Linked DNA regions of Homo sapiens: region 2 is linked to region 1. A link means that fine-mapping ties the variant in region 1 to the expression of a gene that starts in the linked region. Tissue or cell type: minor salivary gland. Region 1 holds a variant in brackets; the other region holds the start of a gene. All regions are shown on one strand. Distances are from middle to middle.

The links. PIP is the estimated chance that this variant, and not a neighbour inherited with it, causes the effect.
Region 2: it holds the start of DENND3, and the variant in region 1 is fine-mapped to the expression of DENND3 in minor salivary gland (GTEx, PIP above 0.99).

The regions. Positions count from the first base shown.
Region 1 is chr8:141,083,965-141,092,142 of GRCh38, forward strand. No RefSeq gene overlaps it. Among named protein-coding and RNA genes, the nearest start is that of DENND3, 41 kb to the right of the region's middle. RefSeq lists silencers at 2,396-2,465, 2,496-2,545 and enhancers at 2,676-2,825, 3,193-3,693, 5,308-5,677, 5,838-5,967. The variant A/G (reference allele first, on the strand shown) is at 4,914.
Region 2 is chr8:141,123,750-141,131,927 of GRCh38, forward strand. DENND3 (DENN domain containing 3) reads left to right here and starts at 4,840. Exons shown (of 23, transcript NM_001352890.3): 1 at 4,840-5,060. The coding sequence starts at 4,959. DENND3-AS1 (DENND3 antisense RNA 1) reads right to left here and starts at 6,392. Exons shown (of 2, transcript NR_183310.1): 1 at 6,275-6,392; 2 at 929-2,722. RefSeq lists enhancers at 3,436-4,267, 5,101-5,931 and a silencer at 4,386-5,245.

The DNA of each region.
Region 1 (8,178 bases):
GTGACTTGCCCAGCTTCCTGGGGCCTCCCCAGAGGCAGCCACTGATGTCAGACTCCCAGTGTGTCCAGCGACAGTTTGTACACAGGCAAGCAAGTCCCGTGTGCATTCTCCGTACTGAGCCCCAGTTGTGCACCTGTGCACAGAGACCGTGCGGGTGGGTGTGCATCCTTCCCCTGACCTGGGTGTGCTTCCTCTAGAGGGCTGGAGCCTGAAGCTTTTATCTGAAGGACTGATCTTGGACTACCAGATTCTGCTTTGTCTGTACATGCAGAGTCAGAAGTAGCTGGGAATTCAGATCTCCCAGGGCAGCCCTCAGCCAACCACTAGCAGTGGGGGTAAGGAAAGCCCTGCTGCCACAAGCTCACCCTGCAGAGTCCCCTACAGGGTCAGGCTTAGCTCCCTCCTGAAGCTTCAGCTGAGACCACGACCTGCTAGGCATCCTCCCCTCCCCAGAGAGGCTGGCGGAGAGGCGTATGCAAGGGAGCGGAGGCTGGGACCGGCCCGGCTTCTTCCCCGGGCCCGCTAGGGGGCGCGCGCCCTCTCCGCGGAGTTCTCTGCTGCTGGGAAGGCGAGCCGGCCCCCGGGACTTCAGAGCCGGAGCCAGGCACTTAGCTTCCTTCTGGGGACCCTGAGGCACGGGAAGAGAAGGGACCTCCTGCTCGCAGTGTCCCCCTTGCGCTGTCCCTGCTAGTGACAGGAAGCTCTTCTCACCCTGTTCGTGGGCCCGGCTGTGTCTCCTCCTCGCCTTCACCTGCCGTTGTGACCTGCAGTGCCCTCCCCAGCTTGATCCCTACCTGGAACCCCTCGGTGTCCTGTCCCAGGCCACGCTGAAGGTGGGCGGTGCGTGCTGCGGGTGACTGGCTGAATGAATGAATGAGCCAACACAGGAATGCCCGTGGACACCACCAGGGGTCTTTCTGCGAAAGTGCGGTGACACCAGGGGTCCTCCTGCGGCCCCGGGAGGGCCCAGACTCGGCCTGAGGGGCTCAGCACCGGCTCCTCCCATTCCCTTCCTTCCTCCTGACTTGCTGTGGTTCTTTAAGTTTGGTAATTAATGTCATTCTAAGTAAAGGAAAAACAAGCAGTCGAGTCATTCGCATGAATTGTTGGGCTCATCATTTTACGGTGCGATGCCGTCTTAGGCGCAGAGCGTCTCACTTGTGCACTAACGCGCCACAATGGCACATGGGTAGTGCACAGTTCGTACAGGCACGTGTATTTCGATCTTACAGGACAATGGAAAGGCTGCACAAATCTAAACCCACTGTCACCTCTGGGGCTCGTGCATTCTGCCAACACCCCATAGGAACCCGGATCTCAGACGTCCCAGGTACGTCAGCCCCACCAGAATTCTGTGCTCATAGGACACGGTGAACGCTGAATGTGGACAGGGCGGCAAGGACCCGGACACTTGGATTACACAGGTCTCCTCTGCTCACACACCCTGACGCTGTCCCATTGAACTTCACTTACAAAACACGAGTTTAAAGATAAAATCATCTGTTTCACGATATGGCTATGTTAAAAAAGATAAATTATTGATAATTCCATGGTGGTGACAGCAGAACATTAAACCAACGTGGGGCCCTTTGAGTGAAGCTCTGTGTGATGCCATGTGCTCCAGGTCCGTGACGCTGACCTTGCCAATGTCTGGAGGGAGAAATTAAACATGTGCCTAGGTCGGAGGTGCTGGAACCTCCTGGGGTGGATCCCAAGGGAGGAATCCGGAGAGTGGTGCGATTGTGGGGGTCCCTGACGTGTGCGATTGTGGGGGTCCCTGACGTGCAGATCCAGTGAACGCAGATGTGTTGTTGGGTGTGAGTGAAAGGCAGCACAGACCTCTTTCAGAGAAGCGGTTGAGTGTCTGGACTTGAAGTGGGACCCTTGCCAGTTCTGCCATTAGCAAGCTGTAAGGAGGTGACTGAAACTCACACCAGCCACTCACCTATCCTTCATTCTCCGGTTCACCCACCTGCATCTACCTGTCTACCTTTTGATGCATCCATCCAACAGTTATTTTTTGAAGTCTACTAGAGTCAGACACTGTGGGGACCATGTTGTAAACTAGATCTCTGCCCTAAGTCCCTTCAGTAAGATGAAGATGAGTTATTTATCAAGATCATATTTGTGGCCAGGCGCAGTAGAGGAATCTGCCAGAGAAAGTGCAGGTCCCCACGAGGGAGGGTGGGGCTGGGGCCAGAGGGCCCTCTGAGCATAGCCACTCATCTCAAGGGGCTCAAGGGATGGGCATTACTGATCCCATGTTACAGAGGGGCGAGGTGCCCGCAGCAGGGCCGTGGCGCTCAGTGATGAGTGGGGTGGGAACCAGCCTTGCCATGTGCAGCCACTGTGGGTTCTGAGATTGGGGGCAGCAAACCAGCATAAGCAGTCTTGCTCAACCCTGTGAGCAGCAGGGCAGGGAAAGGGAAGGAAAGAGGCCTCCCAGGCACACAGTAGTGTCGAGCCGGCAGCAGCCACTTCTCATAACCACCAGGGGTCTGCGTCAGCACCCCATTTTACAGGTGGGAAAATGGGGGCTCCAAGAAGTGAAGTGAGCAGCCCGGGCTCTGGAGCCCTCACAGCCTCACGGCCCCGACCCCCACCTCCGTGGCTGACTCCCCCTGCACAGGGGGCACCCCCACCCCGCCTTCCTTCCTGAATATGATTGATCACCCAGGAACATGACAGCCATGGAGGAACTGAGAAAAGGAAAGAAAGTCCCAGCCCAGCCCTCGGCGCCAGTGGTTCCTGGGCCACGTCCACGTCGCAGCCGTGTGTGGATGCCACATTGGTCACTGTGACTGTGAGGGAGTCACAGGGCTGCTTCTGGCCAAAAGCCCCTTCATGTCCCTGTGGCTACCCTCGCTGTGTGGTTATTTCAAAACATTGAAATAACTTTTTTCTCATATTAGAAGTTATATATACTGTAGTTATTACAAAGCCATTTAAAAATCAGAAAAAAGAAAAAGTCACCCAGAACCTCCCTGCCACCTGGCAGCATGAGTCCTTCCCATCACACCTTCTCATTTGCCCATTTCCTTATTCGTTTGGCATGTATGTATCGGGCACCTGCTGTGTGCCAGGCACTGGGGGGCCCTGGGGAACGGCAGTAGCAAAACAAATCCATACAGAGACGGAGGGACCTGGGACCTGAGGTTTCATCTATTCACCCCATTCAACAACGCGTCACAGTGTGGCTGTCTACACTGGTAGTGTCTGCGCTCAACGCAGTGTGCCTCCGGGCACTTCTTCCATGTGTCTTATTTGTCCATGTGTCTCATCAACTCTGTCCAGGCGCAACCCCATATCCTGTCAGGAGCAGACACCCAGCTGCTAGGGCAAGTCTCAGGCATGGCCACCTGTGAGGTCACAGTCCCTCTGTGGGCCCCAGTGCCCTATCCTGGGGCCTTCCCATCTTTGCCTGTGCGAGGAGCACCGTTTCTCAAGCCCACTCCTGCCTCTGTGGCCCAGTGCCTCTATAGAACACAGGGCCTGCCTTTTCTGGCAGACAGCCCCAGTTGTCTGTCCAGCCCCAGCAGGGGTGAATGTGGGGAGAGCAGTCGGCCCTATGGACAAAGCTCCCCTGGACTTTGGAGGGCAGGAGTGACAGGACTGAGCCTGTCAGGCCCAGACGGGGTGAAAAGAAGTCAGGAAAGGGGGCGTGAGGTTGTGTGGCAGCAGGAGGTGGGTGGGTGTGTGCTTCACAGCCCGACGGCTCCCCATCCCCAGGGCAACTTTCCAAGGGAGGCCTGCAGTCCTTCAGTTCTCAGCTGCAGTGGCAGAGCTGGGATTTGAACGTGTCCCCAGCAATACGGTTCCTTCCCCCGGTCCTTCCTCAGAACTCAGTGCATTGCCTGCCACGTTGTCTAGGAGAATGAATGAATGAGCCATCTCTGCATCCATCTGCTTGGTAAGGCTTCTAGCCGTGTGCACCCTTGTGCGTGCCACCTCCCTTCTCCAGGTCTGGAGTGGGTGGGCGTGGGCACAGGGAGCCTGGTTTCTGTGGCCCTGGTCACATCACATAATGGAGACACAGAGCCCACCTCAAGTGCCCGGGAGAGCCCCCTCCAGAGAGCAGTATACCCACAAGACTGAAGAAATGGTGACCAACCTCCCGCAAGGCCCACACAGACACACACACAGATATACACACATAGCCACACATGCACCCTCTCATAGACGCACATATGCATACATGCAGACAGACACACATGCACACAACCTACGCATACACACATACAGTACACACATGCTTGCACACAGGTACATGCAGATATACACATGTACACCCATACACATGCACACACACACACACCTGTACACACAGATACATGCACGTACACACACACGTGCGCACAGAGACACATGCGCTTCTCTCCTGCTACTGCTTTCCTTGTCTGCTCTGCACTCCCACATCTGATACCCTCTCCATTTCACGTATTTAACATGGACTCTGGCCGCAGACTCCTCAGGTTCACTCTTCTGTGTCTCGGCCTCCCCATCTGCAAGTGGAGACAGCAATATATCTATGTCATGGGTGCTGTGACAATTAAGTGACATGAACAAAACACTTAGAACAATACCTGGCACTGTGTCAATTTAGCTGTGTTCTCAATGTCACCTCTCACTTGGTGTCTGACTCCCTCACTAGAATGCCAGCTCCATGAGGCCAGCTTGCCAGCGCGCTCTCTGCCGCCCTCTTCACCCGGAACAGTGCCTGACATATAACAGGGGCACAACTGGAATCGGTGAATGGATGAGTGGCTTCTGGCAGCCACTGCACTTGCATTCAGAGTGGCAGGGGCCTAGGTGCCTCGGGACCCCTCCCCTCCAAAGTAGCAGGAAATCAAACCTGGCTCAGGCCAGAGGGGTGGACAGCTAGGGCCCCGGGCCAGGCCAGGCCCTGGGGAACC[A/G]GTTTGAGAAGCTCCTCCTCTTCTGGGTACATGTGGGGTGGATGGGCTGGGAGGGTCTGCTCTGCGGCAGGGGGTGCATCCTTCTCTCTTGAAGACACTCCAAAGCTGAGCCGCATAGCCTTTGCTCAGGCCTCAATTCTACCCCCTGGCTCCGTGAGTTGCCCAGGCCTCCCTCCCAGATGAGTGCCCTCCCTGGGGATTAGCCCGACACCTTCTTGCAGCCCCAGGGCCGTGGTGGCCTGCCCAGACCAGCCAGGAGCCAGGCTGGGGCCAACTTAGCACTCAGCATGGCTTGTGATGGGTGGGTGGTGGGCTGGGCTCAGGCCTCAGAGAATACCCGGCTCAGACCCCAGCGTCCCCATGTTCTTGCTGGGTGACTGGGCAAGTTCCTTGGCTTCCTGACTAGTCAAACAGAGTGCACCTATTCTTCTGTTCACATGACTTGGGATTTCCAGTTCTGAAAGCATTGATCAGCTCCCGCTCCGTACCCGATGCTGCACGTGGCTCTAGGGCTGAATGTGATGTGGGTCGTGGCCAGCTTGTTCCTAACTATCCAGCTTATTCTCAGTTCCTCTGGGGCCTCCTCTTGTCCTGGGAGTCTGTCCTAGTCCAGGCTGTGGGGTTGGCATGGAGCTGGGGCCTCTGACCCTGAGTGTTGACACCTGGTCGGGTGGCCCCAGTTCCGTCTGTCTCTGGGCGTCACGCCATGCAGGAAATGGCTGTGGGCCCTGTGTCTAACAGACAGGCCCCTGTGGGTCCGCCCAAAGCTGCACACCCTCGGGCCCCTGGGGACATGCGCTCTGCCACTCTAGATGTGTGTGCCTGGGAGGCTGCCTCGGGCTGGAGTGAAGGTGAAGGAAAGGGCTTTCCAGTCCCCTCTCTCTCAGTTCCCCCAAACTTTTCTGAGCTTCTGTCATTCCCACCCCACCCTGGAAAGGGACTTGGCCTAAAGTGAGGTGGGGCCGGCTCTCTGTCTGTCCTCGTATCACCCTCCCTGTGGGCTTGGGTGGCAGGCAGGGCATGGCCAGAGCCTGGGTTTCTGCTGCTGCCGCCTCGATTTCAGCCCCTCTGTTCTTCGTGAATCGCTCTGCCACCCCTTTCCCGGGCCACTCACCCCAGATGGGGGAAGGGTTGTGGGTAGCAGGAAGTCCGGGGGAAACCCACAGTGGTTCACATCTCAAGAGCCTCAACCCGCTCACAGCAACAGCACTGACCTGACCAGAAGACAAGAGGAAGACGGAGACGAGAGGAAGATGGAGACAAGAAGATAGAGACAAGGGTGTGCCCCCAGGGAGCCTTGCCTGCCCCTCTAGGGCTGGGTGTGTTCTTACCATGGTGGGAGACCTGGGGGCTCTGGCTGCCCTGTGGATGTTGGATGGGGGTGAGGTAGACCCACAGACGCAGGCAGTGGTTGGACAATGAGGTGTCTGGCTGCAGGAGCAGCTGGCTGGGGGGCTGGCCTGGGTGTTGGGGGCTGTGGCCTGCTCTGCCGAGAGACTAAGCTGCCTTCCCTGAGCCAGGAGCAGCAGGAGGTGACATCTAGGAACAGTGAGGTCCCAAGTTAGGCAGTGACAAAACATTTGACAAGACTAACATCTCTTCCCATGAGATGACCCTAGGGAAAGAACAGAATAAATACAAACATCTGTACCTTCAGAAAACTTCCCTAAAACAAAAAGATTTGGAACTACATATTGAAAGAGTACACCATGTATTTGAGAAGACAGACCCAGGGTAACCAACATCAAAACATGTTCTAGTAAAATTACCAATCTAAAAAAAAAAAAAAAATCCTTGAGTCCAGGTTAAAAGAGTGAGGGACTTATACTAAAATAAAAATTAGATTGTCGTGCGACTTTTCAACCACAACACGTTCTGCCAGAAGAAAAAGGAGAAACATACTGTACTTAAAATACTCGAGAGAAAATGTGAGCCAAGTACTATGCACCCAGCAAAACAGACTTTGGAGTATAAAAGGCACAAACAAAAAGCAGCCCCAAAGGACTCAGGAAATAATGTTCTCAGGGTCTGAGGGGCCCAAGGAGCCTATCAGAGAATGACCTTCAGGCAACCAATAGAGTCCTCAATGGAAGCACTAGATAAGGAACCAAGGCTAAACCAAGGCTGAAAAGGAGAGTATAGTGTCTTGGATAGCGACTACTTGGGGCCAGTGTCACTGGAAGTAAAGGAATTTACCAAGACAGTTGTAGGTAAAGAAAGGCAGATTTATTGAAGTATGAAAGGTAGGTGGCTCACGCCTGTAATCCCAGCACTTTGGGAGGCCGAGGCGGGCGGATCACGAGGTCAGGAGATCGAGACCATCCCGGCTAAAACGGTGAAACCCCGTCTCTACTAAAAATACAAAAAATTAGCCGGGCGTAGTGGCGGGCGCCTGTAGTCCCAGCTACTTGGCAGGCTGAGGCAGGAGAATGACGTGAACCCGGGAGGCGGAGCTTGCAGTGAGCCGAGATCCCGCCACTGCACTCCAGCCTGGGCGACAGAGCGAGACTCCGTCTCAAAAAAAAAAAAAAAAAAAAAAAGGTAGGATGCAGTGGCTCACGCCTGTAATCCTAGCACTTTAGGAGGCCAAGGTGGGCAGATTACCTGAGGTCAGGAGTTTGAGACCAGCTTGGGCAACATGGTGAAACCCCGTCTCTACTAAAAATACAAAAAAATTAGCCAGGTATGGTGGTGCATGGCTGTAGTCTCATCTACTCAGGAGGCTGAGGCAGAAGAATCACTTGAACCTGGGAGGTGGATGTTGCAGTGATCCGAGATCGCACTGTTGCACTCCAGCCTGGGTGACAGTGAGACTCTGTCGAAAGAAAGAAGGAAAGAAGGAGAGAAGGAGAGAAACAGAGAAAGAGAGAAAGAGAGACAGAGAGAAAGAAAGAAAGAAAAGAAAGACGTTGCAAGGGTGCAATGGGCAGATCAGCAAGAGAGGAGCTGACTGCCAGGAGACAGAGGCTTGCTGGGGATTTCGCAGGACGGTGCTCGTGCTGTGTGCTGGAGTGGGCCATGTGAAGTATCGCTAACACCAAGGTTGCAGCGAGCTAACTTGCATTTTTCTATCAGCCAAGGGTCTGGTGATGAGTCAGGTGTGGGAAGGTTGTGAGTTATTTGTGCAGGAGGGCTATGTGTTCTGGATCAAGAAGAAAGGCAGACTTATAGCTTATCTGAGTTTTTTTTTTTTTTGCCAGCCTCACTCCTTTTCCCTTATTAGGACCTATGTTTTGCGTGTGATGGCTACATTTTCTGACCGTGT
Region 2 (8,178 bases), 40 kb after region 1:
CAGTGAGTGATTCATAGTTGTTTGGGAGGGGTGCGGCGGGAGCACTTATTTGAGGCCAGACTGTGGTGGGTCTCGTAGATGTCCCAGAGTTTGACCTTTAATGCAGGTAGGAGAGCTCCCTAGTCTGTCCAAACAGCTCTAATATAATAGGCAGGCAGCTTTCCATTCTCTACACGGGGCTTGTTCACATCTATTGGCATATTTGATTTTCCCAGCAGCCTTGCAAGGTAGGCATTGCTTTTTTAAATCTAAAAAAAAATTTTTTTTTTTTTGAGATGGAGTTTCACTGTGTCACCCAGGCTGGAGTGCAGTGGTGCGATCTTGGCTCACTGCAACTTCCGCCCCCTGGGTTCAAGCAATTCTCCTGCCTCAGCCTCCTGAGTAGCTGGGATTACAGGCATGTGCCACCATGCCCGGCTAAATTTTGTACTTTTGTAGAGACGGGGTTTCACCATGTTGGCCAGGCTGGTCTCGAACTCTTGACCTCAGGTGATCCACCTGTCTCGGCCTCTCAAAGTGCTGGGATTACAGGCATGAGCCACTGAGCCAGCCCCCGCATTGCTCTTTTTACAGATAAGAAAACTGAGGTCAGTGAGGTTTGGTGTTACTTGGTGTGGGACAGAGTCACTCCTTTTTGTTTCAAACCCAGCACCTTGGATCCTGCCCAGGCGGCCCCATAAAAGGAACTGCTCCCGGCTGGGATATGCTTTGGGCTACTGTGTGCCCATGTGCGGTCACACCTCGAGGACATATGAACATGTCCCGCTCCTACCATTCGTCTAGGGACAGAGTGACATTGCTCTAGAGAACACTAAAAGTCTTGCACTTCTGTCCCGTTTTGTTGTTGTTATTTTTAAATTGGAAATACAAGACCATTCTCCCCCGCAACTCCCATATCCCCCATCAAGCCCTCAATAAACTGGTTGCATTTGCATGTAAAACATGTATATTCGATATGTACATATCACATCATATCATATCATAGCTAGCTCTGAAGATGCAGCATAGGAAAGAGACGAGAAGGCTGTGCCCTCACCCGTGTGGAGAGCTGTGTGAAACGGAGTGGCCTCCAGACACAGCTTTTATTGCCAGTATTCATCCACTGATGGACATTTGGGTTACTCCCACCTTTTGGCTCAGCTGTGAACATGGGTTACAAGTGTCTGTTCCAGCGCCTTATTTCAGTTCTTTCCAGTATATGTCAGAGGCAGGATCGCTGGGTCGTTTGGCAATTCTGTTTAGTTTTGTGAGGAACTCCCATACTGTTTTCCCCAGCAGCTGCGCCATTTTACATCCCCAACAACAGTCCACAAGGGTTTCAATTTCTTCACATCCTCGCCCACATTTCTTATTTTTTGTTGTTGTGTTATTTTTAAAAAATAACACCTAATGAGTGTGACGTGGTATCTCATTTTAGCTTTGATTTGCATTTCCCTAATGATTAGTGATGTTAAACATGTTTTCATGAGCTTATTGGCCATTTGTGTGTCTTCTAAGAAATGTCTATTTGGGTCTGTTGCCCATTTTTTAATTGGGTTGGATTTTTTTTTGTTGTTGAGTTGTAGGAATTCTTAATATATTCTGAATAGTAACTCTTTGTTTTGTTTTGTTTTGTTTTGTTTTTTTGAGATGGAGTCTCACTTTGTCGCCCAGGCTGGAGTGCAGTGGTGTGATCTTGGCTCACTGCAACCTCTGCCTTCTGAGTTCAAGCGATTCTCCTGCCTCAGCCTCCCGAATAGCTGGGATTCCAGGTGCACGCCACCACGCCTGGCTAATTTTTGTATTTTTAGTAGAGCTGGGGTTTCACCATTTTAGCCAGGCTTGTCTCGAACTCCTGATCTCAAGTGATCTGCCTGCCTTGGCCTCCCAAAGTGCTGGGATTACAGGCATGAGCCACTGCATCTGGCTCTGAATATTAATTCTTTATCAGGTATATGATTTTCTCTTATTCTGTGACTTTTTCACTCTTTTGAAAGAGTTCTTTGATGTACAAAAGTTTTAATTTTGATGAAGACAATTTAACTATTTTTTCTTTCGTTATCTGTGCTTTTGGGGTCATATCCAAGGAATCACTGCCAAATCCAATGTCATGAAGCTTTTCCCTTCATCCTGTATTTTTTAAAAAATAATTTTAACACCTAAAGCGCTGCTAAAATGTCCAAAGTTAATTGACATCCTGCAGCGTCCCCATGAACTCCATTAAAAAAATTTATTCAAGTGAAATTCACACACCATAAAATCATCTTAAAACAAACCATTTAGTACCAGCACATTCACAATGCTGTGCTCGCCCCTCTTTTGGTGTCAGTACTTTATGGTTTATAAATTATGTTTGTTTCTATTTTCTCGTTTGGTCTTCACAGTGTCCCTGAGAGTTAGAGCAGTAAACCCGTTTCACAGGAACATGCAGGGAAGGAGGGTAACGTGCTCTGAGCCCACATGCAGTAAGCACTGACCGTGTTTGCAAGTTTCTTTTATCCAATCCGAGCTTTGCTTTCCTCGACTCTGATGTGGGGCAGTGCTGCCTACTGGGGCAGATGTTCCTGCTGGCTGGGCTCTCCTTGCACCTCTCTTCTTCTCTAGGTCCCCTCATCTGCTCATCTGCCTCGATGTGACTTCCACCTTTGAGTTTGATTGCTAGTCATCTCCACCTCGTATCTCCAAACCCATTAGCAATTTTTCAAGGATGGGACAAAGCTTTCCGTAGGCACTTTGGAAGGACCTGTGGCATGAGAGACGGGAGCGTATTAAAAAGTGCAGAACTGGGAGCCCCTCAGAGGTCATCTGGCCCAATTATCTGGTTTTAAGGAGGAGGAAAAGGGGGCATAAAGGAGTGGATTGCAAGCTCTGTGCACTGCTGGAGCTCTCTTCCTTAAAGCATTTGGCCTCTTGGTGATAAAGGGACAGCAGAGACCTGCTCTCGCGTGAGCCTTACTGGGTCCTGGTGGCAAGAGCTGCCATGTGTTTACCTCCCTTGGATCTTGACCACTGCCCCTCAGGAAGTCACGGCTTAGGGCTGTTGAGCTCACCTGTCACACAGCAACACACAGGAGCCAGACTCAGGCCCTGTGTGCCCTCAGGGAGTGGCTCATGGCTCCAGCCCGGGTTGAGAGCGCCTCTCCTGCATGCTGGGGACTCTAGGTGACGGATTCAGGCTGTGTGCTTTGCAGAGGCTGCTAAAAATGAGGCCACCAAGGCTGGGTGTGGTGGCTCATGCCTGTAATCCCAGCACTTTGGGAGGCCAAGGCGGGTGGATCACCTAAGGTCAGGAGTTTGAGACCAGCTTGGCCAACATGGTGAAACCCCATCTCTACTAAAAATACAAAAAGTAGCCAGGTGTGGTGGTGGGCGCCTGTAATCCCAGCTACTCTGGAGGCTGAGGCAGGAGAATCGCTTGAACCTGGGAGGCAGAGGTTGCAGTGAGCTGAGATCATGCCACTGCACTCCAGCCTGGGCTACAAGAGCAAAACTCTGTCTCAAAAACAAACAGAAAAACAACAACAAAAAACCGAGGCCACCGTCGAGAGAGACAGGCAATTGTTCATGAAATCGGTCTTTCTTTTGAAGTCAGAGACTATAACAACTGTGGCCTCAGCTCACCGATGAGAGCCACCGATGGTAGGCAGCCTCCAGGCCTGGGGGAGAACCAGCAGATCCTCACCATCTTTAGGTTAATAAGTGAAATAAAACCTGTGAGTCAGGCTGCAGTCACGGCCTCACCCGGCTCAGGGAAGGAGGGAGAAATTCCTCAGGGCTCCCTTTTCTGATGTTGCCTTGCTTTGTACTTACTGTTCCTTTTCCTGTTCAGCTGATGACAGATGTTTGACATTAAGCATTTTAGAGTTTTGTTTTTTAGAAAATAGAATCATAGATTATCAGAAGTGGAAGTCCCTTTGGAATAATTTCCCCTGGGTTACACAGATGGCTATGGCAGGGTCAAGGGAGGGGACGGTCAGCGGGGACTGAGCGCAGGCCCCCTCCAGGCTCTGCAGCAATGACCAGGCAGCAAGCCGGCCTCCCGGGCTTGTGGGCTGTCCTCTTTCTCTGGGGTCAGCCTGAGGCTGGAAGAGGCCCGTGGCCCACCGGGCATCAGGCCAAGCCTGGAGCTGACCAGGGAAGGGCCCTGCCAGGCCTTGGGCCTCTGACCCTCAGTCCTGAAGCCTCCCTCTAGCGGCGCCCACCCTGCTCCTTTTCCTGCTGAATTTTACTCAAGTCCGTACTTGAGTATGGCCGGCCCTAGGTTAACCCCGCAGAGTTATTAACCAGGAGTGGCTCTTTCCACCCCCCCTTCCCGCCGGCCCTTCCTGCTGTCCACACCCGGCCAACTCCACTGTCCTGGCAAGGGAGGGCTTCCTGGAGGCGGCAGCGGGCGGCGCGTCCGGCCTTTGTCCCCCCACGCTCTCCAGGGTAGGTCCAGGGACTGCCAGATCAGGGGACCCTTTGCGTCCTGGAGCCTTGGGGGCTGGATGACGTCGCCGGGCACCTGAGGACCCCGCCCATTCCTCCCTCGGTTCCCCAGGGAGCGGGCGGCCGGCGGGGCTGGGCGGGGCCGAAGGAAGGGGCCGCTTGCTCCGACGCCGCGCACGCGCCAGGGCCCGCAGGCGGGTTAGGAAATGACGACCGCGCGCGGGTCTCCAGCAGCACCCGCCCTAGGACCGGCCCCGCCCCCAAGTCCCGGTCCCTAGGGCCGGGCACGCCACTCCAGGCCCCGCCCAGAACCTCCCCGCCCAGTCAAGCCCCGCCCCCAAACTCTGTCTCCCCGCGGTATCCTCTGGGGCTCTCCAGGCCCCGCCTCGGCTCGGGCCCCGCCCCTCCAGGCCCCGCCTCCAGCCCCGCCCCGCAGACGGCGCTCGCAGCGCCCCCGGCCCCCAGGCGGCGCGGCTGGTCCCCAGGGGTCTGCGGGCGACTGCGCGGCTGAGGCGCCCGAGTGCGGTACTGGCGGCGGGCGGCGGGCAGCCATGGCGGAGGCCGCGTCGCCGCACTTGTCGCTGCCCTCGGGGCTGCTGGAGCTCTGCGCGCTGCTGGGCGCCCCCCGGGACAGTCTCCGAAGTCTCGAGCAGGTGAGGGGCGGGGAAACTGAGGCGGACGTGGGCCACGAGTCGGCAGCCGGGACAGCAGTCGGAGAGCGGGCGCCCGGGTGCCCTGTGGGTTGGCGCGGACTTTCCGAGGGCTGAGTCCCGGTCCCCCGGCGGTGACCCCGCGCGCCTGTGGCCGGGGATCGCGCCCGAGCTCAGGCAGGTGCCCTGGAGCAGCGCCCTGCTCCCCTCCCCTCTTCTCTCCTCTCCCCGCCCGGGGCCCTTGGTGTGAGACATGTCTTTTGAGAGCTGCGAACTTGGTCCGCCGGCCGGGAATCTGGGGGTGCCGCCCCTCGGAGAGTCTCTGGGGCCTCTCTCTTCAGTCGCTCCCATCTTGGGCAGGTGCTTCTGAAGGTGGGGTGCACCAGACAACGGGCGGAAGCCGCCGGAGCCTCACGGTCTAGCGGGCCCAGCCCTCGCTGCTGAAATGATTTCATTCTTTATGCTGGGATGTGTTGTCCCCTGAGTAGTGGGTTTTGCACCAGGCACAGAATAACGAGAGAGCAATCTTAGAGTTAGCCGCCGGCCTCGCGTATTCTGCATGAACCCCTTTGCGATGAAGCCTATAGCTATTTTTCTCCCTTGCGGTACCACCCCCACCCCCAACCCTTCCTCCATCTCTGCACCCTCGCAGCCAAAGTGACAACTTCATCTCCCTTCTGCTGGGAAAGCGGCAGTTTTGGAAATTCTCGTTTTCCTTTTTCTTCCCCAGCTTTTCTTAATTCTGTAACGCTGGCTTTCCCTGGAATCCATCTGTGTCTCTGGTTTCCTCCTGGTCCGCCTGTCTGTGACACCGTGACTGGGTCATGTTACCTAGAGATCCCGGCGTCACTGGCCAGCCGTCTGCACAGGTCCGTTCATCTCTTTGCAGACAACAGCATAGAAAGGCAGAGAGGCTTCTGAGTATTTAAATGACGCTGGGCTATCCAGGGAAAATGAAGACTGCAGGGCAGAGGGTGTCACCAGGAAAGGCAGATGTTCCTGCAAGTAACCAGATGAATGTCTGTGAGTGTCCGGGGAGTTTCCCCTGCTGGGCGTCAGTACCAAGCCAGTTTCGACTTCAGTGAAAAAGCATTCTCCTATGGAAATAGTTTCCTCGTTTCCCTCAACTTTTCCTTCCCTTCAACGCCCTGTCATGTCAGTAGATCCCGTTTGACCTCTGTCTCCTCGCAACGTCATCGATTGATTTGTCTCCCTACCTCGAATTTGCCAGATGGCATCTCCTCCTTTTTCTTCGAATAGGAAGTGACCTAGTTGCCGCTGTGGTCTCCTCAGCCGTTGAACGTCTTTCCTCTGGGGCAGTTACAACATGGGTGTTAGTTGCTTGGTGTGACACATGTCTTTTGAGGGCAGGGCGAATCAACTGGAATATTTGCAGTGGTGCTTTCTTTTTTTCAATTTCTTTATTATTATTATTATGTTAATAATAGAGAGGAGGTCTCACTGTGTTGCCCAGACTCATCTCCAATTCCTGAGCTCAAGTGATCCTCCCGCCTCAGCCTTTCAAAGTGCTGGGATTACAGGCGTGAGCCACTGCGCCTGGCCAGTGGTGCATTCCTGAACTAAACACGCTGCAACATTTTCATGTTCCCAGGTCAAGTGAGAGTATGGACAGTCTGCTACTGTGCATGCTTAACTTTGTCCTCTTTACTCTGTCTTTTGATTCTGTTAGGGGTTTGGCAAAGGGTGGAGAGAAAAGTAGTGAAGGACTAAGAAAATAAGGAGCGTTAGGGGATGGATTCCATTTCTTGGAGCCATCCTACTTTTAAGGTCAATATTAATGTTATAGTTAACCAAACATATGATTTTATTTATTTAGATGTTTTTTCGGCGGTTCTATTTTGAATGTCCAAGGCTTTTAAATATATTTTTTTTTTTTTGAGACAGAGTTTTGCTCTGTTGCCCAGGATGGAGTGCCATGGTGCAATCTCGGCTCACTGCAATCTCCGCCTCCTGAGTTCAAGCAATTCTCCTGCCTCAGCCTCCTAAGTAGCTGGGATTACAGGCGTGTGCCACCATGCCCAGCTAATTTTTGTATTTTTAGTAGAGACAGGGTTTCACCACGTTGGTCAGGCTGGTCTCAAACTCCTGACCTCACGATCTGCCCGCCTCGGCCTCCCAAAGTGTTGGGATTATAGGTGTGAGCCACCGCACCTGGCCGCTTTTAAATAATTTTTACCTTGACTTTTACAAATCCCCATTTCTCTGTGGCCCAGGCATTCCTTCTTGATGACACAGGAAAACAGAGGTCCGGAGGTATGAGGAATATCCAGCTTCATGTTGGATAGTGGAGGGCCCTTTTGTTTCATTTCCTAGAAGGGGGAGTAGTGTTTGTTTTTTTAGGAATGGTGACCGAGACTTTGAGAATGCAGGCTAATGTTAGTTACTGTGGTTAGTTACATTCCCCTCCACCCCTTTACTATAGAGCCCTCCCCAACCCCATTATTGGTTGCTATGGAGACTAGACATAGGTGTGACAGGATCCATTATAAATCCATCACACAGGAGTAGAAAGTGTTCTGAGTACCTTGCGTAGTACAGGTCACCCGCATAATTCTTGCGTGTGAAGCTCCATTTTTATGGCTTTTGGTGGACATCGTCCTGACTTTCAGTTTCAGAACAGCACTGGCCAGCTGGCCTTCCTGGGTGATGGCAGTTCGTGTCCTCTCTTTGCACCGTGCAGTACAATAGCCACTGGCCACATGTGGTCACTGAGCTTGTAGTGTGGCCAGTGAGCTAAGAAACTGGGTTTAAAATTTCATTTAATTCTAACTAAACAGTTGGAGAGCAATAAAAAAATTGATTAATTTCTGTTTTATTCCCTTAATAATGGCCAATCCTATAGTGAAGATGAATTCCACTGTGTACTCTAACTTAGAAATTAACCTGTGACTCAAGTAAATTAGAGTGTTCTGGTTTTTACTTTTGAATTAGCAGTTTTAAAAACCAAAATGATGGTTATTGGGTAGGGGTTTAATAAGTCAGCACCTGGGACAGAAGAATGGGAAATGACCTCACCTCCTGCAGCAGACTGGCAGAGGTGACTAGCGTCTCGGTGGTGGCGGGGTCTGGTTGTTCAGGGCAGCCACAACCTGTATCACCA